4 separate regions of the Homo sapiens genome follow, and all the other regions are linked to region 3. The links come from fine-mapping of genetic effects on gene expression. A gene starts in region 3. Each other region holds a variant in brackets. All regions are shown on one strand. Distances are between the middles of the regions. Region 1 overlaps PTPRA (protein tyrosine phosphatase receptor type A). Region 2 overlaps PTPRA (protein tyrosine phosphatase receptor type A). Region 3 holds the start of VPS16 (VPS16 core subunit of CORVET and HOPS complexes). Region 4 overlaps PTPRA (protein tyrosine phosphatase receptor type A).

Evidence for each region.
Region 1: its variant is fine-mapped to the expression of VPS16 in whole blood (TOPMed, PIP above 0.99).
Region 2: its variant is fine-mapped to the expression of VPS16 in whole blood (TOPMed, PIP above 0.99).
Region 4: its variant is fine-mapped to the expression of VPS16 in breast (GTEx, PIP 0.94).

The regions. Positions count from the first base shown.
Region 1 is chr20:2,886,215-2,894,320 of GRCh38, reverse strand. The region is part of intron 1 of PTPRA (protein tyrosine phosphatase receptor type A); the gene reads right to left. Among named protein-coding and RNA genes, the nearest start is that of PTPRA, 17 kb to the right of the region's middle. The variant C/T (reference allele first, on the strand shown) is at 4,074.
Region 2 is chr20:3,028,184-3,036,289 of GRCh38, reverse strand. It overlaps PTPRA (protein tyrosine phosphatase receptor type A), which reads right to left. Exons shown (of 24, transcript NM_001385305.1): 21 at 580-705; 22 at 349-500. Among named protein-coding and RNA genes, the nearest start is that of GNRH2, 11 kb to the left of the region's middle. The variant G/A (reference allele first, on the strand shown) is at 4,379.
Region 3 is chr20:2,836,373-2,844,466 of GRCh38, reverse strand. It overlaps VPS16 (VPS16 core subunit of CORVET and HOPS complexes), which reads right to left and starts at 3,722. Exons shown (of 24, transcript NM_022575.4): 1 at 3,640-3,722. The coding sequence starts at 3,692. It overlaps PCED1A (PC-esterase domain containing 1A), which reads left to right and starts at 3,812. Exons shown (of 8, transcript NM_022760.6): 1 at 3,812-4,256; 2 at 4,534-4,678; 3 at 5,196-5,275; 4 at 5,385-5,623; 5 at 5,721-5,871; 6 at 5,989-6,235. The coding sequence starts at 4,555. RefSeq lists enhancers at 2,914-3,445, 3,979-4,510, 5,987-6,286.
Region 4 is chr20:2,954,864-2,962,969 of GRCh38, reverse strand. The region is part of intron 3 of PTPRA (protein tyrosine phosphatase receptor type A); the gene reads right to left. Among named protein-coding and RNA genes, the nearest start is that of GNRH2, 85 kb to the left of the region's middle. RefSeq lists an enhancer at 7,485-7,544. The variant C/G (reference allele first, on the strand shown) is at 3,338.

The sequences.
Region 1 (8,106 bases), 50 kb before region 3:
TTATGGGGAGGAGAAGAGAAGGAAGAGGCATTTTCAAAACCTGCTGAGTTTTGAGGGCATTATAGAGGCTGAAAGTTTCTGGTTTTAATGTATTCTCCAGTTTTAAAATCGAAAAGAAAATCTGCAAAACTGGAAGACAAACACTGAACCAAACATTTCTGTATCAATAAACCTCATATAAAATTATTCTGCTGTTTGATTATATAACTATTATGTTCTATGGCAACCTACTGATGAAATACGGGAATACCAAAAATAATTAACTACTTTTTTCCATGTCATTATCTCCACCATATTAAAAAAAACTTTCTTGAAAAAGATGCTATTGTTATTTTAATTACTCACATGAGACTATTTCAAATTCTTAACTTTAGTTCTAGTAGAATGCTTATATATTTAATATCTGGTATAAATATTAATTATATAGTATAGTCTACTGTATATATATATATCAAAATCTTTGTAGGCAATATATCTGCAAGAAATAAGACACATCTAGAATAGACACACGTAATCTTCAAAAGCAGTGTGTACCATGCTTTTACATACTCTTTGGTCACTGGGTTAGAAGGTCATGTGCCAAGAAGGAAATGGTTCTGGGCTGTCCTTCAAAAGGCAGAGTGAAAGATTTCCCAAGTAACATGAAGATTTTCATGAGCCATGGATAAGCAACAATAAATAACCAGCTGACAATAAAAACAGATCCATATACCATTTTGGGGATGAAAATATAGCTAAGGATTAAATGTGATTAAATATATGATATATATGATATACCATATATACATGATGTATCATATAGCTACATAATATATTAAGTACAGCTAAGATTAAATATTTCTAATCTAAACTGTCATCTAAATGTAAGAAATCTCCAGCTGTCTTAAATGTCCAGTTGATGTGCATAACTCCATCTGCCAGCTATGCTATCTGAGGGACACATGGTATTCTTGCTGGAGTCATGTAGTTGATTATACTTTATACTCAGGTCATGTCGTCTCATTTAAAGGGAATACCAGTTCACTCTACAAAGCTATCAACTGTAATCCATAAGTGTAAGATCTTTAGTATGGTTCTATTGGAGTAAATCTCTCATTCCTACTACAAACCAGGCACTGCATTAGCAGCTGGAGATATAAAACTGCAAAACAAACAAGTCCCATAAATCCCTGCCCTCAAAGAGCACCCAGTTTAATTGAGAAACAAACTAATACAACTTTGACATTCAAAGAAATGTTCACAAAAACCAAACCTTTCAAGAGCCGTTGGATACCATTATGATTTATTATACAGAATACAATTAAGACAGAATTGACAGTGAAATTCCTTCAAATCTTCATAAATGTATAAAAACAGAATTAATGCTGGCTTCCTTCTGAATACCATTTTTCACACAGAAAGTCTTAATCCCTTCAGGAGAGCTGTGGCCTATCTAAAGCAGAAAATAAAGACAGAATTAGATGCTAAGTGAGGCTTGGCTCACTGAACAGCTAAACCGAACTTAGTTCTGCTGCCACTAAACTCAACTGGGTAAATAAAGATGCTCCTTGCCCTACAATGGGGCTATATTCCAATATACCCACCATAAACTGAAAATATCGTTTAAGTAGGAAATGCATTTAACACACTTTACCTACCGAATGCCATAGTTAGCCTAGCCTACCTTAAATGTGTTCAGAACACTCACATTAGCATACAGTTGAGCAGAATCACCTGGCAACACAGTACACCATGGAGTATACTCATTTACCCTCCTGATCACATGGCTGACTGGGAGGTGTGGGTCAATGCTTCTGCCCAGCACCATGAGAAATTGTCACACTGCATATCACTAGCCTGGGAAAAGATCAAATTTCAAAATTGGAAGTACAATTTCTACTGAATACGTATATCACACCAGCTTTCCCACCATCATAGTATAAAAATCATAAGTTGAACCATCATAAATCAGGGACCATCTATAATGTGAATCCATGCTTCAGTAAATTACATACAGTTGGCCCTCTCTTCTTTTTTTTTTTTTTTTTTTTTGAGACAGAGTCTCATTCTGTTGCCCAGGCTGGAGTGCTATGGCAGGATCTTGGCTCACTGCAACCTTCAACTCCCAGGTTCAAGCAATTGTCCTGCCTCAGCCTCCAGAGTAGCTAGGATTACAGGCACCTGCCACCATGCCTGGCTAATTTTTGTATTTTTAGTAGAGACACGGTTTCACCATATTGGCCAGGCTGGTCTCGAGCTCCTAACCTCAGGCAATCCTCCCACCCCAGCCTCCCAAAGTGCTGGGATTACGGGTGTGAGCCACCGCGCCCGGCCCAGTTGACCCTCTCTATCTGTGGGTTGCACATCCACAGATCAAAAAAATAAACAAATAAAACCATAAAATAAGAAACAAACTTAAAAATACAGTATAACAGCTATTTACATAGTATTTGCATTGTTTTAGCCATATAGGTAATCTGGAGATTATTTAGGGCCTATAAAGTACACAGGAGGATGTGCATAGGTTACATGCAAATATGCCATTTTATATAAGGCACCTGAGTATCCCTGGATTTTGATCTCCATGGGGGGGATCCTGGAATCAATCACCTGAAGATACTAAGAGACAACTGCATTACTATACCTTTTGGACTATCAGGATCCTTCTGAGACTATAAATGTTTAATCTACACATGCCAATGTGTGAATTATCATATAAGTGTATGAATTATCATACAATAAGTGACTTGACAGATATAAGCACAGAATCTACACTGGGTCAGACTTGGAGTAGTCAGTAAGGAAATGCTGACTGGAGGAGCTGATCTCTATCTGATAAATTATAATGTCAAGTAAGAAGGAGGGAGGTGGGCAGTCCAACCAAAGACAGAGAGCAAGAAAGAGCACAGCACCACCAAGGATCAAGCGGCAGTGGGCTCAGAGAAAAGATAAGGCTACCAACGTTAAGAGGAGTTGGATCATGAGGGCCTGCTCTGTTAAGGAGTTTGGATTTTATTCACAGAATCTAAAGTTGGGAAGTTAAAGAGATCACTTTTGGCAGCCATCTAATCAATGACTTGGAATGAGAAACTAATAATGAGTAGACAACAAGGGAACCTGCAGCAGTCATCTAGGTGAGAAGCAGCCTGAATTAAGGGATAGGAGAAATGGTGGAAAATAGGCAAATTTGAGAAATGTTACAGATGTAAAACAGTTAGGAACAGATCACCAACCAGATGAACAACATTCAAGTTTCCAGTTTGGGTCACTGTGTTGTGCCATTCATCAAGATAGAGATTATAAAAATAACACGCTGAAAAGGAAGATGAGTCAGTTCTGAGACTGTTATAGGTACCTGGGAGATAGCCCAATGGAGACCAGTAGGCTGTTGGCTGTAATCCAGATGGGTTCTGAGGACAAAGTTTCTCCTAATTAGCAAGGAAGCTGAAACCATGGACATGTGCTTCCAGGAAGAACGTGTAGAATCAACACAAGAAGGCCAGAGATGGAATCTTTGGTAACTCAAACAAGGAGTGGTCAAAGAAGAGGGGCCTAGGGAACTGAGGAGTGGCCACAAAGATAGAAAGAGGAAAACAAGGAGAATGTGTCACATAACTCAGGGAAAGATAGTTCAGGGAATAAAGACTGTAAAGTTGATCACATTTACTCAGCTTTTTTCTCTCTTCCCTCTCCCATCCTTTACACACTCTCCCCTGTTAAAATCAGAAAGGTAAAAAGTTATTCTGTGATAATTCAAATAATGCTACACTGTGCCCCAAATCAACTACTAGGGAGGGAAGACAGAGAATCAAGATCATTATATTTTCTAACATTTATTAAAGATTTACTATGTGCTAAGAACTGTGCTAAGCATTTACCACGCACTATCTAATGCTTAAAACAAACAAATACATAGAGTACTACAGCTGAACCCATTTACTAGGTGACAAAAGTGAGTCTCAGAAGAGCTAACTATTTTGCCCAAGTTCACAAAAAGCATGGCAGGCATGGAATATGAACCCTAGTCTATCCAACACCCAAAATTAAAATAACTGTAGGGCCTGACAAGGAATATATAAAAGAAACACAAAATC[C/T]AATTTGACCAGGAAAAAAAAAATTGATTGAAGGGTTATTTTTGAAGAAAAGGCCAGGCATGGTGGCTTATGCCTGTAATCCCAGCACTTGGGCAGGCTGAGGCGGGAGGACTGTTTGAGGCCAGGAATTTGAGATCATCCTAGGCTCATAGTGAGGCCTCATCTCTACAAAAAAAAAAAAAAAATCAAAAAATTAGCTGGGCATGATGACGTACATCTGTGGTCCCAGCTACTTACTCAGGAGGCTGAGGCGGGAGGATCACTTGAGCCCAGGAGGTCAAGGCTGCAGTGAGCCATGATTGCACCACTGCACACCAGCATGGGCAACCTACCAAGATCCTGTCTCAAAAAAAGGTATGGGGGGTTGCAAAACAAACTCTGAACATGGATTCCCCCTTTGATGCCACATTCAGGACTCTTAACATAAGGAAAGGCACAGCATCTCTTGAGTAGAATTATCCTGGAAACACAGACCCCTTAGTTCCCTTTCCCAGTCTCAAATCTCTGACCAATAATAACTGTATCATGATTCTGTATTTTTAATCTGATAACCATGGCTTTCTGAGATGATAAAACTGTCCTCCTTAATTGGGTAAGTGGCATCACAATCCCAGAAAGAAAAGACATGAGCAATAAAATGAGGTATGGTATATCAAACTCATGGTACTAGTAGTACTTTTGCGTTAAGTTTAGGGTATGTGTTTTTTAAATGTTGGTAATTCAGATTCAGCTAATGAAAAGCACTGGAAGTCTTAACCAAAACCTGTTTTACTACATTTACAAATTTAATTTCTTAGTATCACAGATTGCCCAAGAGCTTAAGAAGTTTCTGTTTAAGGTGGTAACTCTGACCTGTCAAGGACTGACTGTGCCTGACAGACTGACTGTGTAAATGTATTTTAAACATCTAAGGAAATTTAATTCACTAAGTAAGGGGCCTGGAGCAATTAAATCTGTTAAATTTATATTAACTTAATTGACAAGCAGGTGAAAATTACTATTCTTATTTCTATACAAAATGCCTATGCTTACAAGTACAATAACAAGACTAAAAGAAAACTGGGTTTTAAATTTACCACTTTAATACATGTTAATTTAAAGCCCAAATAATTTTAAAATAGTCCTTCTGTATACAAAAGCCCTTTTCCCACATCAAAAAACTTACACATGTAACTGAGCTGCTCTATTAACCACTACTTGCTCAACAAAAGCCCTCTTCAAAGTAGAACCTTTGAAAACTTACCAAGTACAACTGGATAAGTATGGATGGTTTAAGTAATCTCTCCCACTAACATTGGGGAAACCGAATTGAGCTCCACTTAAGATCCCACCCAAAGGTAAGAACATCTCATCTCAATCTGCTATAACATTCACCCCTTTTGATAAACATAAAACTCTCCTATCTTCCCTTATTGTTACTTGAAATACCAAACTTAAGTAACTTACATTTTATGAGCATGTAGTATTTCAGCATGGTTTCACAAGTATTGCTCATAGTACTTGTGGATGCCTATGGAAAGGGAAAGCTGAAAGGCAGGGGGAGAGAAAACTACCTTTTACTATATATACTATATATACTTTTAGAACTATTAACATGGACACATATTATTCAAATATATACATAATTTTAAATTAAGCAAAATTTTGAGACAAACACTAACAAACCTTTTTTTTTTTTAAATGCTTTTTCTTTTTGAGACAGGGGTCTCACTCTGCTGCCCAGGCTGGAGTGCTGTGGTATGTTCACTGCAGCCTTGATCTCCTGGGCTTAAGCAATCCTCCCACCTCAGCCTCCCAAGTAGCTAGGACTATGGGTGCATGCCATTACACCTGGCTAGCTTTTATTTTTCTGTAGAAGCAGGGTCTCACTATGTTGCCCAGGCTGGTCTCGAACTCCTGGGCTCAAGTGATCCTCCCATGTTGGCCTCCGAAAGTGCTAGGATTACAGGTGTGAGCCACCACACCTAGCCTGAAAATGCATTTTCAAACTTACGTCTTCCCCACCATGTCAGTCATATTGAGAATCACTGATTTAGGGGTTCACAACTGCTGCTGATGGCACTACTGCTCACTGGGCATGAAATACAGGAAGAAAAGGGGTTTTCTTTGTCTTCCACCAGCTGGTAGCAAGAACCTAGCCCAGGTATAGTCTCCCTGAGCTTCTTCTATTTCTCATCCGTGTTTGAGGGCTTTGAGGGACCATTCTAGCTAACACCCCAAACTGGGGAGAGAGAAATACTGGCTGGAAATCACTGTGAAATCTGTCCCTGTTAACAAAGTGGGCAGGCCCAAGAGGTAAGAGGCACTGGAAGGCAGTGATCTCACAGACAGCGTGAGCAGAGGCACTGAGTCAGGGACATTCACATCACTGGGGACATGGGAACCAGGAGAGCAGAAGTATCCCCGTAAAAGCTTGGGCCTCCAGTTCCTTTTAGACAGTGAAAGTCCTGGAACTATCCCACACTGCTCTGGTAACAGTGCTGCTAACATTATCAAAGGAAGACATTCTCTTTACTAATGGTAGTATCAATGCATTTACAATATTGTAATAAGCCACTTGTCAACCAATATTTGAAAATTAGTTGCTCGTTAAGCTATTTGTCAATCAATATTTAAGAACTACTTGCACAATTCACAGGGGCCAGGTTTCAACTTCTTCCCACACACAAAAGCTCAGTTCATTAACTAGCAATCATCTCTTCCAAAAAGCCAGAAATCTAGAACCCTAATGCCTCTACTGCTTAAATCATACTTGTCCATGTATCTCCATCCCTATCACCACTCCTCCCACCCTAAGCCAATCCAGAACACCATCATCACTGGCCACATTTGCTCTAATAAACATCAAATAAGTCTCTATACCCTGCCCAGTCCGTTCTCCACAAACAAACCTTTTACTGCACATCCACCAATAAATAAGAGTATACATCCCCAACACATGTTCATTTATAAACAGAACACAGGTACTAATACCTATAAATACTACAAAACATTTCAAATGAAATACATAATGATCACAATAATGGTACTTCCATCAATTAAAATAGTAATGTAAAACCCATCTTAAAAATATTTTAGTGCAATCCATATGATTAAATATTTCTCATTATGTTTGAAAAATCTCATTTTAATATATTATAGAGCAATTTAAAAGCCTGATTCCAAGTTTTAATGCTATCATAACCAAAAAGAAACATGAATCCAAAGGAAGAAGCACTATGGCTGTGTTTACTAAACTGTGATAATCATTTTTTCACCCCCATTATACAAATATTTCCTTTTAAATATGGCTAGCAAATATCTATCTTCTGTGATATACTTTTGAAAATTAATCAAAGATACTACATTTTTTTATTTCTTTTTCTTTTTTTTCTTTTCCTTTTTTTTTTTTGAGACAGAGTTTCACTCTTGTTGCCCAGGCTGGAGTACAATGGTGCGATCTCGGCTCAGGGCAACCTCCACCTCCCAGGTTAAAGCAAGTCTCCTGCCTCAGCCTCCCGAGTAGCTGGGATTACAGGTATGCACCACCATGCCAGGCTAATTTTGTATTTTTTTTTTTTTTTTAGTAGAGACGGGGGTTTCTCCATGTTGGTCAGGCTGGTCTCGAACTCCCAACCTCAGGTGATCCGCCCGCCTCGGCCTCCCAAAGTGCTGGGATTACAGGTGTGAGTCACCGTGCCTGGCCACATTTTTCTATTTCTAACAAATGGACATGAAATCCACTAAAACTCTTCCCTTACAGTGGTTTCTCTTTTAATTTTTTACTATGGGAATTCTCAAACATATACAACAGTAGAGAAAATACTATAATAAACCCTTATATACCTATTATCCAGCTTCAATAATTATCAACGTATGGCAATTCTTGTCTCGTCTGTAATCCTCCAAACATGCTGAATTATTTTAAAGCAAATTCCAGATATCAACATCATTTCATCCAAAATACTTCAGTACCTATCTGTAAGAGAAAGGAGTCTTTCTTTTTAATGTAACCATACTACTATAATAACCTTTAAAAAATTAAAATTGTTTA
Region 2 (8,106 bases), 190 kb before region 3:
CTTCTGCTGGTCACACCAACCCAGGCTCAAACCTGGGAGACACCCTTGACTCCTCTTCTCTTTCACCCTCTGTTCATAGCACAACCGGGGTCTCCACTGCCAGTCTCCCCTGCTGCTCTCCTGCCCACTATCTGAACATTAGTCCCCTAGCACTTATTGTGCCAAGTTCAAGCTCCAAGGTCCTCTCTCTTAGCATCCAATCCTGTCTTGGCATCAATCTCAACTACTATGTGCTCACCAATATCTTGCTCTTGTATGGCTTTCTTCAGTCTGACCCATGGTCATCAGCTTCCCCTATCTGCCCCTCCTCGCTTTCTCTCTCCCGCTGAGGGCAAGGGTGAGCCATACCTGCAGTGCACGGTGATGGGGTGGTTCCCTGACTGCTGCTGCTGCTTCTGCACGGCGGCGATGATGCTGATCATGCCCTTTCCGTCACTGGGGATGCCCACTTCAGGCCAGCCATGGAAGTGGAACTGCCGGATCTGCCGGCTCTTATTCTCCTTTGGAAAAAAGGGGATCAGGGAGGCAGGGGTAACCCTGCTTTTCCTGTGGGCAGAGTCCACCCACGACCCATCTTACCCTGGTGTTGGTGACCAGGAGGTCTCGGACGGTGTAGCTCTCACATTCCTCCTCCTTCTTCAGTTCCACTGTAATATCTCCATAGGACACCAGTCCATCAGATGGCCAGTACTGGGCACACTTCTCCTGGAGAGACAGGTTGGAGAGGTGAGGAGCTCAGAGTACCACATGTGTAGAAGCAGCACTGCCCACGAGCAGCCTGACCCCTCTCAGTACAGCCACCTCTTACGCTGATACGCTTCGTCCCCAAGGTATTGAAAACTTGCAGGATCATTATATCACATCATTCCAATTAACCTCCGATCCTCACCAGAGACCATCTAAAACACTGCCGGGGTCTGTAAAGGACTCTGACTACAGGCTCACAGGGTATCCAATACTTGGTGGCTGCAGGGAGAGGAGGACGAGTGAAAATCTTTGTTCCAATTCCTTTCTTTTTCTCCCATGGGGTGTTTTCATATTTAATGCTGCTTACATCCGCCAGACTGCTAATTCAGAAAATCAGAACCAATTCACATTCCCACACAGCCATGGGCTTCACCACCGCCCAGGCCACAGTATCCTTTCTCCCTTTTACCTTTATCTCTTTGATCTGCAAGGTACCTTCAAGTTGCTAGCACTCGCCTTTCTGTCCTTGCTAGTGAGCAGGAGGTGGTCTACTGTCTGTCTTTGCTTGCACCTGGCTCACTTCCCTCTACAGCTCCTTGTGGGAGTGGCTGCGTCTCTTTTCATCTCTGTATTCCCCACACCTTGCACAATGCCTGGCACATGGTAGGCTCTCAGTATCTGGTAAATGAATTTGTTCAATGTCTGCAGAACAAGCCAAGGCATAAATACATAAATATAACATCACACAGTTATGCTGCCCATTTCTTTAGAGAATTTGGGGGTAAGATCTGAGATTCTTCACTACTGGCAATTGAAAAATTCTCAACCATACATATAATGTCATTGAAAGATTTGGAAAAAAATTAAGTAGAAAAAGAAATTGTGAATAGTCTCACAGTCCAAATAAAATCATGATTATTAAAGTGTTGAATCAAGAACATGCCCTGGACTAGTGCTTTTCCACCCATGTTCTCTAGAAGCCCTGGGGATGCCTCAGGGATCGGTGCCCTGGGCCTCTCTTCAACCAGAACAGCCAAAAAAAAAAAAAAATTCTCATTAAGGCTCACCTCGATCAGGCATTATATTAGTTTTTATGGCACTGGTGGGTGGAATGGATTTTGCTACCACAGTGCCTTCTCAACACTGCTTTACACAGTGTCTCAGCTGGGATGAAGACTGGGCCTTTAAAACCATCAGAACCATAAGGTCCCCATGGGTGTGAGCCACAGTGTGTGTGTGCTGGAGGAATTGAGCATGATCTCTCAGACAGAAATACATATCAAGTCTAGGGACTAGGTATCAACACTAAGAGTCTCATTTTTTTTTTCTTTTTTGAGAGAGTCTTGCTCTGTCGCCCAGGCTGGAGTGCAGTGGCATGATCTTGACTTACTGCAGCCTCCGCCTCCCAGTTTCAAGTGATTCTCCCACCCCAGACTCCCAAGTAGCTGGGACTACAAGTGTGCGCCACCATGCCTAGCTAATTTTTGTATTTTTAGTAGAGACAGGGTTTCACCATGTCGGCCAGGCTGGTCTCAAACTCTTGACCTCAGGTGATCCACCTGCCTCAGCCTCCCAAAGTGGTAGGATTACACAGGCGTGAGCCACCACATCTGATCAAAAGTCTCTAAATTTTGTATACATGGGCGGATTTTCTCTCAAGATCTCTGGAAGACCAAAGAGGATTTTTTTTTTTTTTTTTTTTGAGATGGAGCTTCACTCTTATTGCCCACGCTGGAGTGCAATGGCGCGATCTTGGCTCACTGCAACCTCCGGCTCCCGGGTTCAAGTGATTCTCCTGCCTCAGCCTCCCCAGTAGCTGAGATTACAGGCATGCATCACCATGCCCGCTAATTTTGTATTTTTAGTAGAGACGGGGTTTCTCCATGTTGGTCAGGCTGGTCTCGAACTCCCGACCTCAGGTGATCCACCCGCCTCGGCCTCCCAAAGTGCTGGGATTACAGGCGTGAGCTGCCGCACCTGGCCTCAAACAGGATTTGTAAGACAAGGAGTGACAATGATTTATATTTTCAAAAGGACCAGCAGCTGCCATTTGAAAAACTAAAAGTGGGTTAGGATGAGAGCAGGAGGACCAGTTGCCAGGCCACTGCAGACGAGGCTGCGCATATGAGTCATGCCCACAGTCCCACGGGCAAGCAGTGAGAGACGAGGGCTTGTTCAGATGACAGCAGTTACGCTGGAGAAAAGTGGGGAGGCTCTGCCTGTATCAGGACTCAGTGGCAGACTGGATGTGAGGGGTGAGGAGAGGGGAGGAAGGAAGGTAACTCCCGGATTTTAGACATGAGCAACTGGGCAGAAGGTGGTACTATTTATTTAGATGGCTAAGAGTGGGGTGGACTGGTGTCGGGGGAAGGAGGAAATCAGGAGCCCACATTGGGAAGGGGGACAGGTGACTGGCCTAGAGACGCAGATTGAGGATCCCTGGCATATGGGTTGTACTTAAAGCCATAGGACTGGCTGAGATCCTGAAGGGCTAGTGTGTCAAAAGAAAACAGAGTGGGCTAGCGCCCGAGTCTAGTATACTCCAATGTTTTAGAGGAGGAGGTCACAAAGAAATAACAAAGGAGCTGCCAGGTTAGTGAGTGGGGTGATGCTACGGAAGTAAGTGTTCTGAGGAAGAGGAGGGAGGTACTGACTCTTTCAAATGCTGCTGTAAGGACAAAAAAAAAAAAATCAGAAAAGAGAAATGACCTTTGGATTTGGCAAGAGGACAGTCACTGGTGATCTTGACTAAAGCAGTCCCAGTGGGGCCAAGCCTGGAAGGAACAGAGCGAACAGAGAACTTGCAGGGAGAAAGCCAACTCTTTTTTTTTTTTTTTTGAGATGGAGTCTCACTCTGCCACCAGGCTGGAATGCAGTGGCGCGATCTTGGCTCATTGCAACCTTCAGCTCCCTGGTTCAAACGATTCTCCTGCCTCAGCCTCCCGAGTAGCTGGGATCACAGGCATGCACCATCGCGCCCAGCTAATTTTTGTATTTTTAGTAGAGATGGGGTTTTGCCATGTTGGCCAGGCTGGTCTCGATCTCCTGACTTTGTGATCCGCCCACCTTGGCCTCCCAAAGTGCTGGGATTACAGGCGTGAGCCACCGCGCCCGGCCGAAAGCCAACTCTTTAAAGGAGTTTTGCTGGGAAGGGGTGCAGAGAAATAGGATAGTAGGTGGAAGGGAAAGTGAGATTAGCAGATTTTTTGTTTTTAAAAGATAGGAAATGTAACATGTATAGGCTGATGAGAGTAGTGGTTAAAGAGGGGAACTGCTGATGGAGGTGGGAGAGAAGATGGTTATAGCAGCAACATCCCTGAGCAGGCAGGACGGAATGGGGCCAAGAGCACAGTGGACAGGTGGATTGAGAGATGCAGAAACCCTTTTCCACTGTAACAAGAGAGAATAGAGTTGGTACAGATTTGAAGAGGCTGGTTGTTTGGGGGTGGGAGGATGACAGTGTTCTTGTCTGATTTCTTGGAGAAGAATGAGGCCAGGTCACAAGCTAAGGTGTGAGTATGATGGGACAGGCAAGAGCAGATGCTGGAGGTTTCAGGAAGAAAAGAAAGAGCAATAGCATTGCTAGGTGGCACCAATTACCTCTATGAGATTTGTGGTCATGAGTTCAGTGTGAGAGCATTTGGCACTGTTTTGTGTTTTTGCCCAGTGATGTTTGCTATATCAGATAGAG[G/A]CATATAACTGGGTTTTACTAGAGAGTTTGCTATGAAAGTAAGAAAGCATGAGGGAATAAGGAAAGGTAATAATGACATACCACAAAAACTCAAATCAGAAAACTCAAACGCTCAAAAACAGAACTCAAAAACACACAGAGTAAGGAGGAAGGTGAGGACATGTTCGGTGTGACTGATGTTGAGAAAGTGGAGGCATCAATAACTCTAAGGACTTGATGAAGACAAAAATGACTGGAATAAAAGAGAATACTGAGGTGGGAGGAAGGAGGCAGTAAACAGGGCGGATGCCTTGTTGAGATTCCAAGGGCAGTGCAGATACAGGGCAGATGGTGACTTGACCATGGGATCAGGTGGCTGAGGAAGCTGAGGAATAGAAAGATTGAGGATAGATGGATCATCCACATGGTGACTGATGCCTCCAAAAGCAGAGTCAGGAACAGGGGCTCAAAAGGAGCAGTAAGCCAGGTGTTAAAGTCATCAGTGGGTGAGGGACAGAAGATGGGGAATGGGGATTCAAGACCAGTAGAAGAAAAGCTGGGGACTGGAGTTTCATCTCAGATTTGTGTGTTCACGTTACGGCCTCTAGATAATAGCATCTTAAAGAAGTGAAACAGGGAAGGTTTTCTGTCTTTTCTCCTACTTTGTCTTTCCACCAGATAGCATGAAGTCTCTTATGTCTTATGTCTCTTATGAGGTCTAAGGCGGACATGGTGATGGGGACACACAGCTTTGTGAAGACTAATGCTATCAGGTTTCACTATGCTTTAGAGAAGCAGGATGAGGCCTAGGGTTGGGCTAGGCCTAGGGTTGACCCAGCATGGGAGTTCCTGGCACTGCTCTGTCTGCCCAGGCTGATGATGGTCCAAGCTGCAGCTGCTGAGGGAACCCAGGCATCCTGGTGGACCCTTTTGATTAAAATAGAGCAGAAGGAGGCCAGGCGCAATGGCTCATGCCTGTAATCTTAGCACTCTGGGAGGCTAAGGCGGGCGGATCACTTGGGGTCAGGAGTTTGAGACCAGCATGGCCAACATGACGAAACCCTGTCTCTACTATGGAAATTAGCTGGGCATGGTAGTGCATGCCTGTAATCCCAGCTACTCGGGAGGCTGAGGTGGGAGAATCACTTGAACCCTGGAGGTGGAGGTTGCAGCGAGCTGAGATTGTGCCACTGCACTCCAGTCTGGTGGACAGAGTGAGACTCCATCTCAAAAAAAAAAAAAAAAAAAAAAAAAAAGCAGAGGGAGATAATTAAAAATTTTTAATTCCTTCGAGATTTTAATTTGTAAGTACAGAATTTATATTATGGGATCGAATTTTTTTCTCTGGGAACTTAATATTGTAGGTGAGGATGGTAGTGTCACTGTATAAGTGTAGGCACCTTTCATTGCATCATTTAGGCTTAGTGCGTTAATTACTTCTGGGAGCTACACTTGACAACATGAATGGAACAGAAAGTGAACTTGGGGGCCAGTGAGGCCTTGTAAAGAACATCACTAACATCCTGTTCCAATCCACTCAGAAGCTTTTGAGGGCAAGCACTACTGTCTGCTTCACTGGCCTAGGAAGACAGAGCATAAGCTACAGTGGAAGGCAGAGGGAGAGGCCTCACTCAACAGGCAGCAGAATTTGTGTGCGCACGACTCTTCTCCCCACCGCCACACACATGAAATGCTTCCTGCCCCCTGCCCTTTACTCTCACTAGGTCCTTTTCAAGGATGGAAGAGCCTGCATCTGACTGGACAGAGGCGGAGATGTTCACTGGGCCACATTTTATCACAGGGCAGTGGGCCGAGATGGTCCTTGTGCTCGTGGTTCCAGCTCTTCGGCCTGCTCTTTGGTCCTGCCCATCACAGATCTGAAGGGCAGGGGTGCAGAAGGAACCACAGGTAGGGCCCTGGTCTGATCTGCAGGTTCCATCACGACTGATCAGAGACGGCAGGAACAGGCACCTAGCTCCTGAGAACACAGTGGCTCATTTCCTAAACAGCTTTTGTTACTCAGGTGTGTGCTTCCTTGAGTGCAAAGCCAAGCACCTTAACCGAACCTCCCACCTCATCAGTATTGTTATTAATGATGATGAAGACACTGGGCGCAGTGGCTCACGCCTGTAATCCCAGCACTTTGGGAGGCTGAGTCAGGCAGATAACCTGAGGTCAGGAGTTTGAGACAAGCCTGGCCAACATGGTGAAACCCCGTGCCTACAAAAATTAGCCAGGCATGATGGTGGGTGTCTTTAATCCCAGTTACTAGGGAGGCTGTGGCAGGAGAATTGCCAGAACCTGGGAGGCAGAGGTTGCAATGAGCCCATATTGTGCCACTGCACTCCAGCCTGGGTGACAGAGACTCCGTCTCAAAAAAAAAAAAAAAAAAGATGATGAAGACCTACAAAGTATGTCTGTTGATTAGGTACATGATACAAGTCTAGGAAGAATAGCTAATGAGTTAAATGACTGATCAAAATTGAAAAAAATGCCGGGCAAGGTGGTTCAAACCTGTAATCCTAGCACTTTGGGTCAACCAGGTGGGTGGATCAATTGAGCCCAGGAGTTCAAGACCAGCCTGGGCAACATGGTGAAACCCTGTCTCTACAAAAAAATACAAAAACTAGCTGGGCATGGTGGCACGTGCCTTTAGTCCTAGCTACTTGGAGGGCTATGTGGGAGGATCACTTGAACCTGGGAGGTTGAGGCTGCAGTGAGCCAAGATCGTGCCACTGCACTCCAGCCTGGGTGACAAAGTGAGACCCTCTCTCAAACAAACAAACAAACAAACAAAACCAAAAAAAAAAAAAAAATCCTGATGTAATGAAACATCAGGGTGAGAAAATATGTGTAAAGCCTTGTACCAAAGTTAACACAAGTACAGATGGGGAACAACTAGTGACTTGAGACAACTAATGTAAAACATACTTTGTATTTTAAATGTTTGACTATAAATTCAATGAGTCATGAGTGGGTGCCATCCTTAATTCCTCCTCACTTCACCCTTTCTGGGACAGCACCCTCTCACCACCCGAGTCCAGGCCACCAGCATTACTGCCACAGCTTTCGCATTTCTAATGAGTCCTTCTCACTGCTGCCAGAGGGATTTTTTAAAAAACACAAATGGGATGTTGTCAAGGGCTCTTCAATTGCTTTAGGAAGACCAAACTCTTCACTGTGGCTTAGAAGGAATTTTCTCACCAGGCCTTGCTAGCTTCTCTCCAGGCCCATTCTCTAGATTCTCATCCCTGCTAAGTGACACCCCAGACATAGTGAACCGCTCATTTGCTGCAATGTGCAACCTCAACAGAAATAATTTTTAAAAGAATAAGCATTGTCAGAACACAGACTGGGTCCCCCCATAATGTGGGGGGTGAGGGAGATATCCCTGAGATTGAATGTGCTTAGTAGAGGCTGTATGATTCTGACTCAGGAACAATATTAGGAGGTTTCCTATACTGAGAGGAAGTTGACCTAGGGGACTGCTAGTGTCCCTTTTTAGTATGAGTTTCCGGACAGCTCTGCTTTTTAATAGACCTGAGGGCTTTTTTCTTTAAAAGATTTCCTTATTACTGAATATTAGACTGTAAGTTTCTTGTTTGTATAATTTCTCAAATTCTACTGCTTTATTTTATGTAGTCAGCAATGAGGCAATCCCTTCTTAGGGACACTCATATTGGGTCCACCTCAGAACCTTGACCTATCTGCCCTGCCTGGGGCACTGGGAAGGAGAGGGTGCCCCCCCC
Region 3 (8,094 bases):
AGTTGCATTTTTAGGATTAAAAAAATAGCTTAACTTCTGGAGTCCCATAAGAACTGGTCACCGTTTCTCCTCCTTGCCTTCCCAAATTGAGTGGGTTCTCCAGAATACTACTCCCAATACAAAAGAATCCTGTCAGGCAGATAGGACTTGAAATGTAATGTCTGCCACCTGTTTTATCATTCATTCACTGACTCAGACATGTATCAAGTCCTGCCTATGCATAAAGCTATGCACACATATGAACAAAACTAAGTACTTGCTCTTAAAGCATTTCCATTCTGGTGGAAAAGGTGAAACATGCTCTTATATTTTCCTGTTAACCTGCCCGCCCCCAAAACCCTATTTTTTAACAGAGGTCTAGAACCTGTTTGGGTTCAAAGCCTGACTCCACTACTCAATAGCTGTGTAACCTGGTCACTAGTTGTATAACCTGGCCTCTCTGTGCCTCGGCTTCCTCATCAGTAAGATGGTACCTACCTCATGGGATTGTAAGGCTTAAGCAAGTTAAAACACATAAAGTACTTAGCATGTTTAGTACATAAGAAAGGCTCAATAGCTGTTAGCAACTTAAAACATAAATATCCTCCCCAGCAAGCCTTAGACCCCTAATCCTTTCTGGCAGTACAGCACAGGTAAGAGTAGATTAATCATTCAGATTGTGTCTGTGGCATGCACCCAACACATACATTCTTTTAAAACCTTATTAACATGTCAACAAAGCAAAGACTACATCTGACAAATAAGAGCTCTGTGGTAATGAGGTCAATGTCTGCAGTACTCTTTGATTTAATAAGCCTGGGTAGGCAACAGGTATCTTCAAAATAATACAAGTAAAGTTGATATTTTAAAAGTGAATGTTGTATCAACTAGCTGGTGTGTAAATACTAAATGACATGGCTACCTTGGTCAGCTGAAATTCCTTCTCCACAGAAACAAGTTGAAATCATTTCCTACTGCATTTATGGATTTTTAATGAAGTTTTTGCAATTTTTTCATACTGCACAGGCATATTTCTTTTCTTTTTTTTTTTTCCCCAAGATGGAGTCTTGCTCTGTTGCCCAGGCTGGAGTACAGTGGTGCGATCTTGGCTCACCGCAACCTCCGCCTCCCAGGTTCAAGCAATTCTCCTGCCTCAGCTTCCCGAGTAGCTGGGATTATAGGTGTGTGCCACCACGCCCGGCAAATTTTTGTATTTCTAGTAGAGACGGGGTTTCATCATGTTGGCCAGGCTGATCTCGAACTCTTGACCTCGTGATCTGCCTGCCTCAGCCTCCCAAAGTGCTGGGATTACAGGCGTGAGCCACCACGCTCGGCCAATTGCACAGGCATATTTCTAAGAGAGAATTATAAATAAACAACAAATGCAACAGGTCTCTAAAAACTGCCACAGGGCACTTGTCCATCTAGGAAGTATATCACATTAGGTACCAAAAATTACATTTAAAAGTTTTAATATGTCAGTGAGAATGGTATACAGTTTCATTAGCACAAACAAATGTCTTCTATTTAAGTAAGACCCCCATGCAATGTCTTTGTGATCTTTACTTGCAATCCATAACATATATCTATCTATCTATCGATAGATACATCTATCTATCTATCGATAGATACATCTATCTATCGATAGATACATCTATATGTCTATCTATAGATAGATACATCTATATGTCTATCTATAGATAGATACATCTATATGTCTATCTATAGATAGATACATCTATATGTATCTATAGATAGATACATCCATATGTCTATCTATATATAGATACATCTAGATGTATCTATATATATATAGATACATCTATATATCTATCTATATCTATCTATCTATAGATAGATATAGATAGATATATCTATATATAGACGGAGTCTCACTCTGTTGCCTGGACTAGAATGCAATGACGCTATCTTGGCTCACTGCAACCTCCGCCTCCCAGGTTCAAGCGATTCTCCTGCCTCAGCCTCCCAAGTAGCTGGGATTACAAGCACCTGCCATTATGCCTGGCTAATTTTTGTAGAGACAGGGTTTGACCATGTTGGTTAGGCTGGTCTCAAACTCCTGGCCTCAGGTGATTCACCCACCTTGGCCTCCCAAAGTGCTGGGATTACAGGCATGAGCCACTGCGCCTGGCCTAAAATAATATTTTTAATTTTTCAGAGGGAGTATGCTATGTTGCCCAGGCTGGAGTGCAGTGGTTATTCACAGGTTCTAACATCGGTCCCTACACCCTCAAACTTCTGGGCTCCAGTGATCCTCCTAACTCAGCCTCTCCAGTACCTGGGACTATAGGAACATGCCACAAAGCTCGGCCCAGTAAAATATTTTTAAAAAACTTTAATGGGCAATTATTACATAGCAAGCACTGTTCTAAATATGCACTGGTGATAAAGAGAAGCAAGAAACATGCTTTTGGCCGGGCTCAGTGGTTCACGCCTGTAATCCCAGTACTTTGGGAGGCCAAGGTGGATAGATTGCTTAAGGTCAGAAGTTCAAGACCAGCCTGGCCACCATGGTGAAACCTCACCTCTAGCAAAAAATACAAAAATTAGCCGGGCGTGGTGACAGGGGCCTGCAGTCTCAGCCACTCGGGAGGCTGAGGCAGGAGAATCCCTTGAACCCGGGAGGCGGAGGTTGCAGTGAGCCGAGTGCCCCTGCACTCCAGCCTGGGCAACAGAGGAAGACTCTGTCAAAAAAAAAAAAAATGCTTTCAGCCCTGAAGGAGCCTGGTTTAGCAGAAGAAACCTATACAAATGTCGCCTAAATATACAAATAGACCATACCTAAAAGACCCTAGCACTGGGCCCAGTGAGGCCCACAGGATTCTATTGGGGGAGAATCAGGCACAGTTCCAGAAAGAACCCTTGAACTACTAAGTCCTGAAGGATGCGCAAAATTCTTCAGTGAGATAAAGAGAGAAATGGCAGTATCCACAGAAACTGCAGACTGGTTAGGGCCTTGTAATTCTGCGCAGCTGGAACGCAAGATTTGGGTAGGAGAGCGGTAGATGAGGTTGGAGAGACAAACGGGCTGCCTTACAGATAGACGTTCCACGAGAAGTTCGTAGTTTTTCCTATTAGGGAAGCTATGGGAAAATCCTAATCTGGGTAACGATGTAACGGGTTTACACTTTAGAAAAATCCGTGGTTTAGGACTCTACAACTCCCATGGGCGGGCTGCCCTAACCCAGGGGTTCCCACTTCCGCTGTTCCGGGATTCACGGACGACTCGCCCCCTTTTCCCAGCCTTGGTCAGCACTGTTACCCCGCCCGCCGTGCGATCCCGCCCCCCTCGGAGCGCCCCTGTGGTCTGACTTCAGCAGCACTTTCCGGCAGGAGACTGGGCACTCGCTGTCACCCGCGAGCTGCCTCCCTCAGCGAGATCTGAGCATCTTTCCGGAGGCTAACAGACCTGGGCTTCGGGGTGACCACTGTGCTTGCCTCAGTTTCCTTTTCTGGAGCAGGGGAAGGCCCGGCTCCCTGCCCAAAGGCGGCTGTGCGCTAAGTGGCAGACGCTCGGGGAGAGCCGGCGCGGGGCGGACCCCAGCGCCAGTAGTGACAGGGGCGAACGCCGCCGGGAGACTCCAGCCGGCGGGCGAGCAGGGTAAGCCAGGCCGTGGGCGGGAGGGCGGGGCAGCTCACCGGTAAAAGGCAGAGTCCCCGAGTGGGTTCCAGTTCGCCGTGTAGCAGTCCATGGCTGGTGCAGACGGCAGCTGGGAAGCACCGAGGGGACACCCACCTAGAGCGGGCTCCAGGCCGGCACTTCCGCTTCCGCCCGTCCGGGTCACGTGGCGAGGCCGCCGCCGCGGCCATCACCACTGTGGGCAGCCTCACTTGGCTGCCGCCCCGAGACCCCAGCCCGTACCTGGGCTTCGCGCCCGCCAAGTGGGCCCAGCCCTGGCTCCTGCGCCCTGTGGCGGCCACCTCCATCGCCTTGCTTTCCCTTCGGGCACTGGGGGTCGCTCAGGGCGGGACATGGGTGAACGGAAGTGGAAGCTGTGAGCGTCGCAGCCCGAGGCGCCGAGGCCTGAGGCGCCGTCGGGGCCACAGCGACGCTCGCATGGAGAGCGCTGGGCGCTGGGCTGTGCACCGACGGCTAACCTGGACCCACGGTCTCTGCGGGGCGGGAGCTTTGCAGAACCGACTGGCCGACTGGGGCGCGGGAACATGAGGCTTGGCTAGGAGCCCGCTGCGGGCCAGGCGCGCGGTGCGCAGGCATACCCGGGTCGCGGGTGAACACCGCGGAGCCCCGGGACTTGGTAATTGGCGCGAGCGGGTGCGCGCATGCGCGGGACGGCGGCGGGCACGTGGCGAGGCGCAGGGCGGCGCCGCGCGGGAAGCTCCCCAGTGCCCTGGAGGCCTGCTGGCTGGACGACCCCCTGCCTCTGGTACCAAGTGTGACCAAGGCTGGCGCCACCATGGCTCTGCTGCCGTCACCTCCTCCCTTTAGCATTGAGCAGCCCCGGAGGGGCTAGCCCTGAGGCTGACCTGCCCAGAGTCCCCACCATCGCGCTGCTTAGTGGCCTCTCCCTGCAGCCTGTCGTTGCTGGTGGCGGCATGGTCTTCTGTCTGTCGAGCGAGGAGCCGCGCCGCCCGCTGCGAAGCGACATGGTCCACTTCCAGGCCTCGGAAGTCCAGCAGCTGCTACACAACAAGTTCGTGGTCATCTTGGGGGACTCCAGTGAGTGCCTCTTCTAGGGTGACGCTTCCAGTCCCACACCTTGCAGCCCGTTCAGTGTGTCTGGACCATTTGTTTCCATCTCACATCTCTTGTCTGTCTTCTGGTCTGTTCCGTCCAGTAGGTTTTCTCTTTTTATGTCCCACACATCTTCCACAGGAGTCCTGACAGGTGTAATAACCTGTGCACTTTTTAGCCCATCCTTGCTCAGCATTTCTCGCCCTGACAGCTCCCCATAATTTCCATCACGAAAGCGTTGCATTGTGTAGTGTGTCTCCTGGGTGACTTGGCCGACTTAATTTCTGCCAGGTGATCTTGGGTCACTGTATACTGCTGGCCAGGAGGCACACAGAACAGAGGCAATGCCAGGACTTTTTAACCTCATCTTTTCTCCTGCGTCTAAGTCAACCACAGAGCTGGTGTCGGGCACCTCAGCCCTGGGAAAATGGGGTCCTGGACTTGGAAGGAGCTGGGGCAGGCTGAGGTCTGCCTCAGCCTTGGGATCTCTGTCTCCTCCCAGTTCAGAGGGCTGTGTACAAGGACCTGGTGCTCTTGCTCCAGAAAGACTCACTGCTCACAGCTGCCCAGCTGAAAGCCAAGGTGAGGGAAGCTTGGTGGCCATGTCAGTGGTGGGTGGGCACAGACCCTGGCCTGGCAGGGTTCTCCTCCCTGGCATGGGTCTGACCAGTAGGGTGGGGGGGGTGGGTAGGGGGAGCTGAGCTTTGAACAGGACCAGCTGGTGGCTGGGGGCCAGCTGGGCGAGCTGCACAACGGGACACAGTATCGTGAGGTCCGCCAGTTCTGCTCGGGCTCTGGCCACCACCTTGTGCGCTTCTACTTCCTCACTCGTGTTTACTCCGAGTACCTTGAGGATGTTCTGGAAGAGCTGACATATGGACCTGCCCCGGACCTGGTGATCATCAACTCCTGCCTCTGGGATCTCTCCAGGTTGGGGCGAGGGAAAGGGGAATACTGGTTGGGGCTGGAAGTACGGCTGAGGCAGTCCACCCTTGTGCTCTTGCCCACCCTGTGTGTTATCCAACAGATATGGTCGCTGCTCAATGGAGAGCTACCGGGAGAACCTGGAGCGGGTGTTTGTGCGCATGGACCAAGTATTGCCAGACTCCTGCCTGCTGGTGTGGAACATGGCGATGCCCCTCGGGGAACGTATCACTGGGGGTTTCCTCCTGCCAGAGGCAAGTGACTGAGGCCCATCAGGACAAGAGATGGGATAGCAGACTGGTAGATAGGACACCCTGCTTTCAGACCCTGCTGCGTTCTGTGGCTCTTAGAGGCTGCACTTTCTCACTTAGCTCCAGCCCCTGGCAGGCTCCCTGCGGCGGGATGTGGTTGAAGGGAACTTCTACAGTGCTACGCTGGCCGGGGACCACTGCTTTGATGTCCTAGACCTCCACTTTCACTTCCGGCATGCAGTACAGCACCGTCATCGGGATGGTGTCCACTGGGACCAGCATGCACACCGCCACCTCTCACACCTGCTTCTGACCCATGTGGCTGACGCCTGGGGCGTGGAGCTGCCCAAGCGTGGCTATCCCCCTGGTGAGCCCTACCATAAGTGGGGGGGTAGTGATGCACTGGGGCCCTCAGAGGACAGGGCTCAGAAACAGAATGGGACACAGCCACTCAAGGGAAGTAGAGGTCCCTTGAAGGACTCCTGTGGCTTCTGCATGCACCTTCCTCAACCCCTGAGGAGGGTTAGATCATCGGAGCAATATTCTTGTCCAAGTTCCAGTTTTCTACAGTCTGGCTGTGTAGTCATTTCTGTGTGCTTGAAGGAGCTTGTACAAGTATTGACCACATAAGGCAGCATGTTGCAAGGGTCCTACCCAACAGATTAACAGGAAAGAAATGGGGCATGGGTGTGAGGAGTGGAAAGACAGGGAGGAAGGGCCATCCAGGCAGTGTGGCAGAAGCAAAGAAGCCCACAGCTGGGGGGTGGGGGTACAGTCAACTGGCAGGGTGTGGAACAGGGATGTTGCATCGGGAAGGCCAGCCTTATGGACTTGGGCTCAATGGACAGTGTTCCATAGGCTTCTTAGTTCAGCCTCAGAGTCCCACTGTGACTGGTGCAGCTTGGTGTAGCTCTCCTCGGGCCCCATCTCTGGGCCTTTGGTGGAGGCTTCTGAGGGCCCCACTCCCCCTTGTTTTGAGGCACTGCTCCCCATCACATCTCAACTGTAACACTCTGCTGCAGAACCTCTGTTTCCATGTCAACACCCTAGTCCCTGCATGCACACAAAGAGGGCACCATGGCTGATTGTCTCCATGGCTGCTTCTCCCCTGCATCGTGTCCTTAAAGGGCAAGTTTCCTGCTGCACTTGTTGACGACTCACCCCTTTCAGCCCCAGTGTCTAGCACAATTTCCCTGTACACAGTATCAACAGAATTGTATTTGTTGAATGGGAGGCACGAGTCATGTTAGAAGGCCGATTATGGCAGCACAAGAGGATGTGGGGGCACAGAGAGTCCAGGAATATCATAGAGACAGACCTGTAACACTTGGTAGCCAGGAGTTGGAGCATCAGGGAGGTGAATACAGATTTTGGTTAAACATCCCCATTTTCTTGTTTAGATGTAATAATTGATCCCCAGCAAATGATGGGATGCCCTGAAGGTTGTAAGGCTAGTTTTGATGGCTTAGGCCTTTGAAATCCAATTTGGAGCTACAGAAGTTAGGGCCATGAAAAGGGAGAGTTGATTTGGGGTGGAAGGATGAGTTGGTGAGTTTGGTCACAGCAGATTGATTTGAGGTTCTTTGGAAATACAGAGTAGATTTGCAGTCATTGGTACCCAGCAGAGAGATTAAAACTGAGGGCACAGTGGCAGCTGTGAGGGAGACAGAACGATGCTCATGCTTTGGATTGGCAGGAAAGAGGGGCTATGGCGGAAACAAAAGGAGATGAGGGCAGGGGCACTTTTAGGAAGGACTGAGGCTGCTGGCAGTGTCACATGACTGTTGAGAAGAAGGGAATTTGTTAGCAAGTGGTTACATTTAGTAGGAAAAGTGTTGAGGGCATGGGTTTGGATTAAAGGAGGGAGTGAGCAATTGAGGAGGAAGTGGAAATTGGGCAAAACATTCCTTTTGGAAGTTTGGATGGTAAAAGGAAGTTGTTGGGGAAGGGAATAACAGGATCTTTATGTTTGGCTTATTTACTGGTCTATGGGGAGGAGGTGGGCGAGGAAAAAGCTAGATACAAGACCTGGGCAAACAAAGAAGGCTCTGGAGGGAAGTGTAGGTTAGAACAAAGGTAAGTCTGAGAGGTAAGAGAGAAGGAACACACTTTGGGCTTGGCCTGAAATGAGAGGGAATGAGGAAAACTGGGTAGAGGGCAAGGATGCTCCAGCCTGGTGGCTCTGCTCTCCAAGAGGAAGGAATAGAGCTTTAGAAGTGTGGATGG
Region 4 (8,106 bases), 120 kb before region 3:
GACTCACAGTCTAAAGTGTTCAATGTGGTAGTGACTCTCCAAGGGAAGTAGGACACACATCCTTAAGGGACACATGAAAATCTCAAGGGTAGGGGGGGAAGAGAAGGAGATGTAGGTGGTTCATATATACTCCAGGAGTTTGCCCCTGGTACCAGCAGCCGTGCCTAGCAGGGAAATGGGTTCAGCAGTGGCCTTCAGGTGCATCCACAGAAGATTTTGACAATTTCCCCATTCTTCCTAGGCTGTGATCATTAAACCAGTGATATACTGTTAGATTTTCATAAAACTTACATTTTATAACTCTGTTTGGATAGTGAATTAACATGGATCTCTGGCAGAACCCAGCTCAATTACTACCTGAGCCTAATCCAAAATTGGAAACTCATACAATTTCCTTCACAAGGGTCAAACAACAAGTGGAAGGCTGACTATTATATATGTATATGTATACATGTCTATTCTTGATAAATTAATAGAAAATGGTTTTGGGAAAAATAACTACATATTTGAGAGGAGGGAGTTAGACCACCACCTCATTCCATATACCAAAATAAATTCCACATAGGTTTAAAAATTAAATGCTTGAAAACACATTTTAAAAGAAAATAAATGAATATGTGAGCTCAGGATGAGGAAAAACTTTCTAAGCATAAAAGGCAATTAAGAAATCATAAAGGTAGAAGTGGAATATCTGACAGAAAAAACAAAAGCTCCTAAACATAAAGAAGAAGCCCATCATAAATAATGTTTATGGACAGGAAGACTCAATATTGTCAAGATGTCAGTTATTCCCAAATAAGCCTATAGATTCAATGCAATCTCAATCATAATCTCAGCAAGTTATTTTGTGAATATAAAAATGCTGATTCTAAAGTTTACATGGAGAGACATTAAGATTCTGAAGGGGCAACTCAATATTAAAGAAGAGTCAAAGATTAATGCTATTGGACTTCAAGACTTACTTTAAAGCTATGGTAATTAAGACTGTGGTATTAGCAAAAGAAAAGGCAAACAGATCAATGGAACGGAACAGAGATCATAAACAGACCCACATAAATATAGTCAACTGACAAAGGAGCAAAGGCAATAAAATGGAGCAAGATAGTCTTTTCAACAAATGATACTGGAAAGGGACAGCTACATATAGAAAAATTAATCCATATCAGACCTTATTATCTTTCACAAAAATTTAACTAAAAATGAATCATAGACCTAAATATCAATCATAAGACTATAAAATGCCAAGAAGATAACAGGAGAAAATCTAGATGACTTTGGGTATGGCGAGAACTTTTTAGATATAACATCAAAGGCATGATCCATGAGAACATAATTGATAGTCTGGACTTCATTAAAATATAAAATGTCTACTCTGTGAAAGACAATGCCAAGAGAATCAGAGGATAAGCCACAGACTAGGAGAAAATATTTGCAAAAGATAGATCTGACAAAGGACAGAGAATTCTTAAACTCAACAAGAAAAATAACAACCAGATTAAAAATGGGCAAAAGACCTGAAGAGACACCTCACCAAAGAAGATAAACAGTACGGCAAATAAGCATCTGAAAAGACACAGAACATCAAGTCATTAGGTAATTGCAAATTAAAACGGGATACCACTACACATCTATGAAAATGGATTTTGGTTTTAAAATCCAAAACATTTGACAATACTACATGTTTGTAAGAATATGGAGCAGCAGGAACTCTCATTCACTGCTGGTGGGAATGCAAAATGGTACATCCACTTTGGAAGGCAGCTTGGTAGTCTCTCAAAAAAATAAATAAGCTCTTACCATATGATCCAGCAATTGTGCTCCTTGGTATTTAACCAAATGAGATGAAAACTTATGCCACTTAAAAAAAACCTGCACATGGATGTTTACAGCAACTTTATTTATAATTGCCACGACTGGGAGCAATCAAGATATCCTTCAGCAGGCGAATGGATAAATAAGTGATGGCACATCCAGACAATGAAATATTACTCACTGCTAAAAAGAAATAAGCTAAAAACATGAAAATACGTAGAAGAAACTTAAACATATATTACTAAGTGACAGAAGCCAATGTGAAAAACCATGGAGACAGTAAAAGATCACTGGTTAAAAAAAAAAAAAGAAAATAAAAAAGGCCAGGTGCGGTGACTCATGCCTGTAATCCCAACACCTTGAGAGGCCAAGGCAGGCAAATTGCTTGAGCTCAGGAGTTCAAGACCAGCCTGGACAACACAGCAAGACCACATTTCTATAAAAAATACAAAACTTAGCTGGGCATGGTGGTGTGTGTGTGTAGTCTCAGCTATTTAGGAGGCTGAGGTGGGAGGATCACTTGAGCCTGGGAGGTCGACGCTTCAGTGAGGAGTGATCATCACTGCACTCAGGCCTGGGTGACAGAGCAAGACCTTGTTTTTTAAAAAAAAGGTAGGGCGTGGTGGCTCATGCCTGTAATCCCAGCTTTGGGAGGCCGAGGTGGGCGGATCACGAGGTCAGGAGATCGAGACCATCCTGGCTAACATGGTGAAACCCCGTCTCTACTACAAATACAAAAAATTAGCCGGATGTGGTGGCGGGCACCTGTAGTCCCAGCTACTCGGGAGGCTGAGGCAGGAGAATGGCATGAACCCGGGAGGTGGAGCTTGCAGTGACCCAAGATGGCGCCACTGCACTCCGGCCTGGGGGACAGAGTGAGACTCCGTCTCAAAAAAAAAAAAAAAAAATCAGTGGTTGTGCAGTTAGGAAAAGGGAGAGAGGAGTAAGCAGGTGGAGCAGAGGACTGTCAGGGCAGTCAAATTCTTCTGTATGATACTACAATGGTAGACACATGTCATTATACATTTGTCCAAATCTACAGAATGTACAACACCAAAGCTTGGGTGATAATGAGGAGTCAATGTTGGTCCATCAATTGCAACAAAGGTACCACAGTGGTGTAGGATGTGGATAATGAGGAGGCTGTGCAGGTGTTGGGGACAGGTGGTATTTAGGAATGCTCTATATTTTCTTTCTTTCTTTTTTTAGGACGGAGTCTCACTCTGTTGCCCAGGCTGGAGTGCAGGGGCATGACTGTGGCTCACTGTAACCTCCACCTCCCAGGTTCAAGAGATTCTTCTGCCTCAGCCTCCTGAGTAGGTACAGTTACAGGTGTGCACCACCACACCCAGCTAATTTGTGTATTGTTAGTAGACATGGGGTTTCATCATATTGGCCAGGCTGGTCTTAAACTCCTGACCTTGTGATCTGCCCACCTTGGCCTTCCAAAGTGCTGGGATTACAGGTGTGAGCCACCGCGCCTGGCCGGAACTCTCCATACTTTTTGATCAATTTTGCTGTGAAC[C/G]TGAAACTCTCTAAAACACAAAGTCTATTTTAATTTTTATTTTTTCTTATTTCTCTAAGAAAAAAAAAGTCTATTTTAAAAAAGAAAATGAACTGTCATAAATAATTGAAACAAGAACTCATAACAATACTGAAAACATAACAGTCCAATTTTGAAAAATCTGAAGGACCTAAACAGATAATTTACAGACGAGAAAAACGAACAGCTAAGAAAATACACAAAGAAGTGTTGACTGTCCCCACTAATCAAATGAATATAATGAGATTACATTTTTATTTTCCAAATCAGAAGAGATCAATCATATGAAATATCCAGTGGTTAAATACTGGTGGGAGTAACAATTAGCCTACAATAAAAATTCCTTTCCAGAAAGGTAATACAAGAACAAGGGAAAAGAACAAATGCATGGTGATGGAAGCTGTGGAGAGAATTGGTATGCGTACACTAGGGAGGAAAAGACACATCAGAAGTTAAGAAGATCCATGTCACTAACAGGTACTATATCCATAGACCACGACCAGGAAAATCACAGTGAAAACCTCATCCGTCTCCGAGAAAGACTTTGAGGCAAACTCCTGTGACTTCCCGACCCCCCATATACAATGCATTTGCAACAACACTATCCTTACTTCTCTCTCTGGTTTCCAAATTTCTACTCCAACATCTCAGAGCTCCATTTCAGGAAGTAGGGTTGAGGTCCTCCTCACTCCTCAAGAATGCCATATGCAAAGCATTTCTCCTGGAGCCTGCTCTAACAGTCCCTGTTCTTTTTTTTTTTTTTTTTTTTTGATACAGTCTCGCTCTGTTGCCCAGGCTGGAGTACAGTGGTGTGATCTAGGCTCACTGCCACCTCCGCCTCCTAGGTTCAAGCAATTCTCCTGCCTCAGCCTCCCAAGTAGCTGGGATTACAGGCGCGTGCCACCATGCCTGGCTAATTTTTGTATTTCTTTTTTTTTTTTTTTTTTTTTTTTTTTAGTAGAGATGGGGTTTCACCATGTTGGCCAGGCTGGTCTTGAACTCCTGACCTCAAGTGATCCACCCGCCTTGGCCTCCCAAAATGCTAGGATTATAGGTGTGAGCCACTGTACCCGGCTTAACAGTCCCTGTTCTTGAAAGCTTTTTGCCCTGTGCTTTCCTATCACTGAAGACACTGTAAGTGGCTCAGTTTCCTTCCTGTCCCCCAGGCCTGCTATTCTCCTGGATGACTTCAATATCCTCATGGATGACAACCAAAATCCCCATCTAGGCCAGCCTCTCAGTTCCTTGACTTCCTTCACTCCAACAACGCTTTATCTCTGCTACACTTGGGCCACTCACGACAATGGCTGTACTCCAGATGCTGTCATCACCCAGAAAAGCCCCCATACTGAATAAATCTTGCCTTCCCACTCTCCAACCACACTTTCTATCCTTGTAGTTCTCTCTGTTATGTCTACCACACCTGCTCTCTGACCTCACCCAGGCCTTCAGTCTCTTGAACCCCTCTCTAATTCTTTTCAATATCTCTGCTCTATCTTTATTTCCTTTTCTACCAAATCAAGAAAACTTGGTGTCAGTTCAATCATTCTTTTGTCCTAACTTCCTTCACTACACTGTTCTTCTTTTACACCAACATGGAAAGAAAAATCCCAAACTGTCAGCCCTATACTTGGACTGCCAGATGCTGCTTAAAAAAAAAAAAAAATCAAATAACTCATAAGGGTTGTATCACTACAAATCACTATTTCCGCTTCAGTGGAACCCTAAGCACTTTCTGCAGTCTTTCTGTCTTTCCTTAGCTCTCTCCAATTCTCCATAGCGGTGCCTTCAAACCTCCTCTCCCCTCTAACCATCTCCTCCCACACATGTGGCTGTTGGCCTTGCCTACCCTTCCAAGAAAATAAAAGCCATTGGACTAGACACCCTTAACTCCCCAGTCACTATATCCAGAAATTTTCCCCTTCCCTGAAATTCCATCCAGGAATCTCAGTCCTTTAGGAACCCTGCATTTTTTTCTACCACCATCTCTAGCTTTAACCCCTCCCTTTCATACCAGTTTTTAACACAATTAAGTTTTCAAAGAAGATGAAAAATTTCTTTGCATCTACATCAATCCTTCAGCTATCATTGTCTCTACTCTGCTTCATAGCCAAATCTCTAGAAAGAGTTGTCTCTCCATGGCAATCTGGCTTCTTGTTCCACCATTCCACTAAAACAGCTGCTTCCAGCCTAAAAGTAAAATGGGTAAACGATATGAAACATAACTCACAAAAAACCATACAGTTCTCTTAAATCTATGAAAAGATGCTCAACCTCACTGATGATCAAAGAAATCAATGCTGAGATACCATCTTTTTTTTTTATTATTTGAGACGGAGTCTCGCTCTGTCGCCCAGGCTCGAATGTTGTGGCGCGATCTCGGCTCAGTGCAAGCTCCGCCTCCCAGGTTCATGCCATTCTCCTGCCTCAGCCTTCCGAGTAGCTGGGACTACAGGTGCCCGCCACCACGCCTGGATAATTTTTTGTATTTTTAGTAGAGACAGGGTTTCACTGTGTTGGCCAGGATGGTCTCGATCTCCTGACCCCGTGATCTGCCCGCCTCAGCCTCCCAAAGTGCTGGGATTACAGGCGTGAGCCACTGCGCCTGGCTGAGATACCATTTTTTAATCTATCACACTGGCGAACATAAAAAACTTTGATAATGCTGCATTGGCAAGAGTTTGAGTAAACAGGTACTCTCATATAATCTATAAATATTCATCAGAATTACAAATGCACAACCCCTCTGACACAATTCCACTTCTGGAAACTTATTCCACGGATACATATCCATACTTTCAAAGTGACCCATGTACAAGGTTATTCAATGTAGCATTGTTTTCAAGAGAAGAATACTGGAAATACCCTTAACGTCTATCAATGGGGGAGAGAGACATGATTAAATAAATTATGGCTGATTTATTTATTTATTTATTTATTTATTTATTTATTTTTATTTACTGAGACAGGGTCTTGCTCTCTCACTCTGGTTGGAGTGCAGTGGGACAATCATTGAACTTGGAAGGATAAAGAGTAATTGGCCAAGACAAGGGTCAGACATAGTCTTTCAAACTGAGATGACTTGGAAGCTTGAAAAAGCCTGTCTGGTCCTGGCAACAAGAAAGACCTAGGTAAGGACATCACAGGGGGCTTCAATAAATATCTGCTAAATGAATGTAAAAATGGCAGACATGAAAGACTAGGGTGGGTGAGGAAAGGGTGGGGCGGGGAAATGCACACAATGAGGCTCGAGGAGGCAGCGATCATATCATGAAGGGGCCTGTACATTACAGTGAAAGTTTTAACTTACCACTGAACACACTGAAGAACTACCAAAGGTTTTATCACAGCAAGGTTAAATGGAACAATTTAGATTTTAGAAGCAATGACTGATGGCAGAGTGAAGGATCAACTGGTGGGGTTTGAAGTAAGGAGGGTCACTGACTGAAGCTTTCTGAAGTAATCTAGCCAATAAACCAGATGGATCTCACAGCAGGGCAGGAATATCTAAAGGAGACTGAGAAGAGGATTTATAGGGGTAGAATCGAAGGCTAATGAGATGTTGGAGGTAAGCAAGGCCCAGATGTCTAACTTCAGTGAACTGCAATGCTATAAGCTGGAGGATGACCAGTTTTGGGGAATGTGGTGGGGAAAGTGATGAGGTTAGTTTGAACATGGAGAATGTGTGGTATTAGAGTAGATGTTGTATCTGTGGGGGGTAGGGGGAAAAAAGACAGAATGGCAGACAGGCAATGACAGAGCAGCTGCCCTGGAAGTCAGGCAGAAAGCCAAAAAAAGGGAAGAAGACAGCTCTATGAGTGACAAAAGCAGCAATGAGCTAGCCAGGCAGCAGACATCTGAGAAACACAGTAGGCAGGAGTAGGTGGGTGCTGATGAGTAGAAAACTGATACATACCACCAGGGGAGGGTGGAGTAGGAACAGCACTCTGAAGAGTTGCCAGTGAGAGAAATCAGCTTGAAAAACTGGCAAGCTTCTGAAGAAGTCCTAGAACACCAGATATCAACTTTCATTATATGTCTTCTCTTGAGAAAGGCAATGTGATAGAGAAGTCCAAAACAAGAGAAGAGACCTTCCCCAACATTAGTGAAACTAAGGCACTGGAGAGCAGCTCACTTGCATAGACAACATTATATAGAGAATGAAACTAGACTACTAAGGCTGTGAAATAGATTCTTAACTTCTACTGCTTCTAAGTTCCACCTAAAACAAGATTCAGTTGGGGACCTTGAAAGAGATGAGTCTGGAGGCAAAAGAGTCAGTCAGATTACTACAATAAACAAATACACAAAATAGAATTTGGTATAGGTTTATATTGCAGATTAACACAAAGAACAATATGAAAATTTATTTGTTCTGCTTAAAGCACAACTTGGAACAAACTACTTGATACATGAAACCAAAGTATAGTACAGATTATCTGCATAAAGTAAAAAATAAAAACAAACCAGTGACAATTTTGAAAAAGAACAAAAAAAGGGGAGAAATCTATCTACTCAGTGTTAAGGCTTACTATATAGCTACCATATTTAAGACAGTATTAGCAGAGGAATAGACACATAGATCAATGGAGTAAAATATAGAACCAGTAACAGACTCACATAAATATGCCCAAATAAAAGTTGCAAAAGCAATTCAATGGACAGCCTTTTCATCAAATGGTACTCAGAAAACTGTATATCTACACGTGAAACAATAACGCTGGACCCCTCCCTTATACCACTTGCAAAAA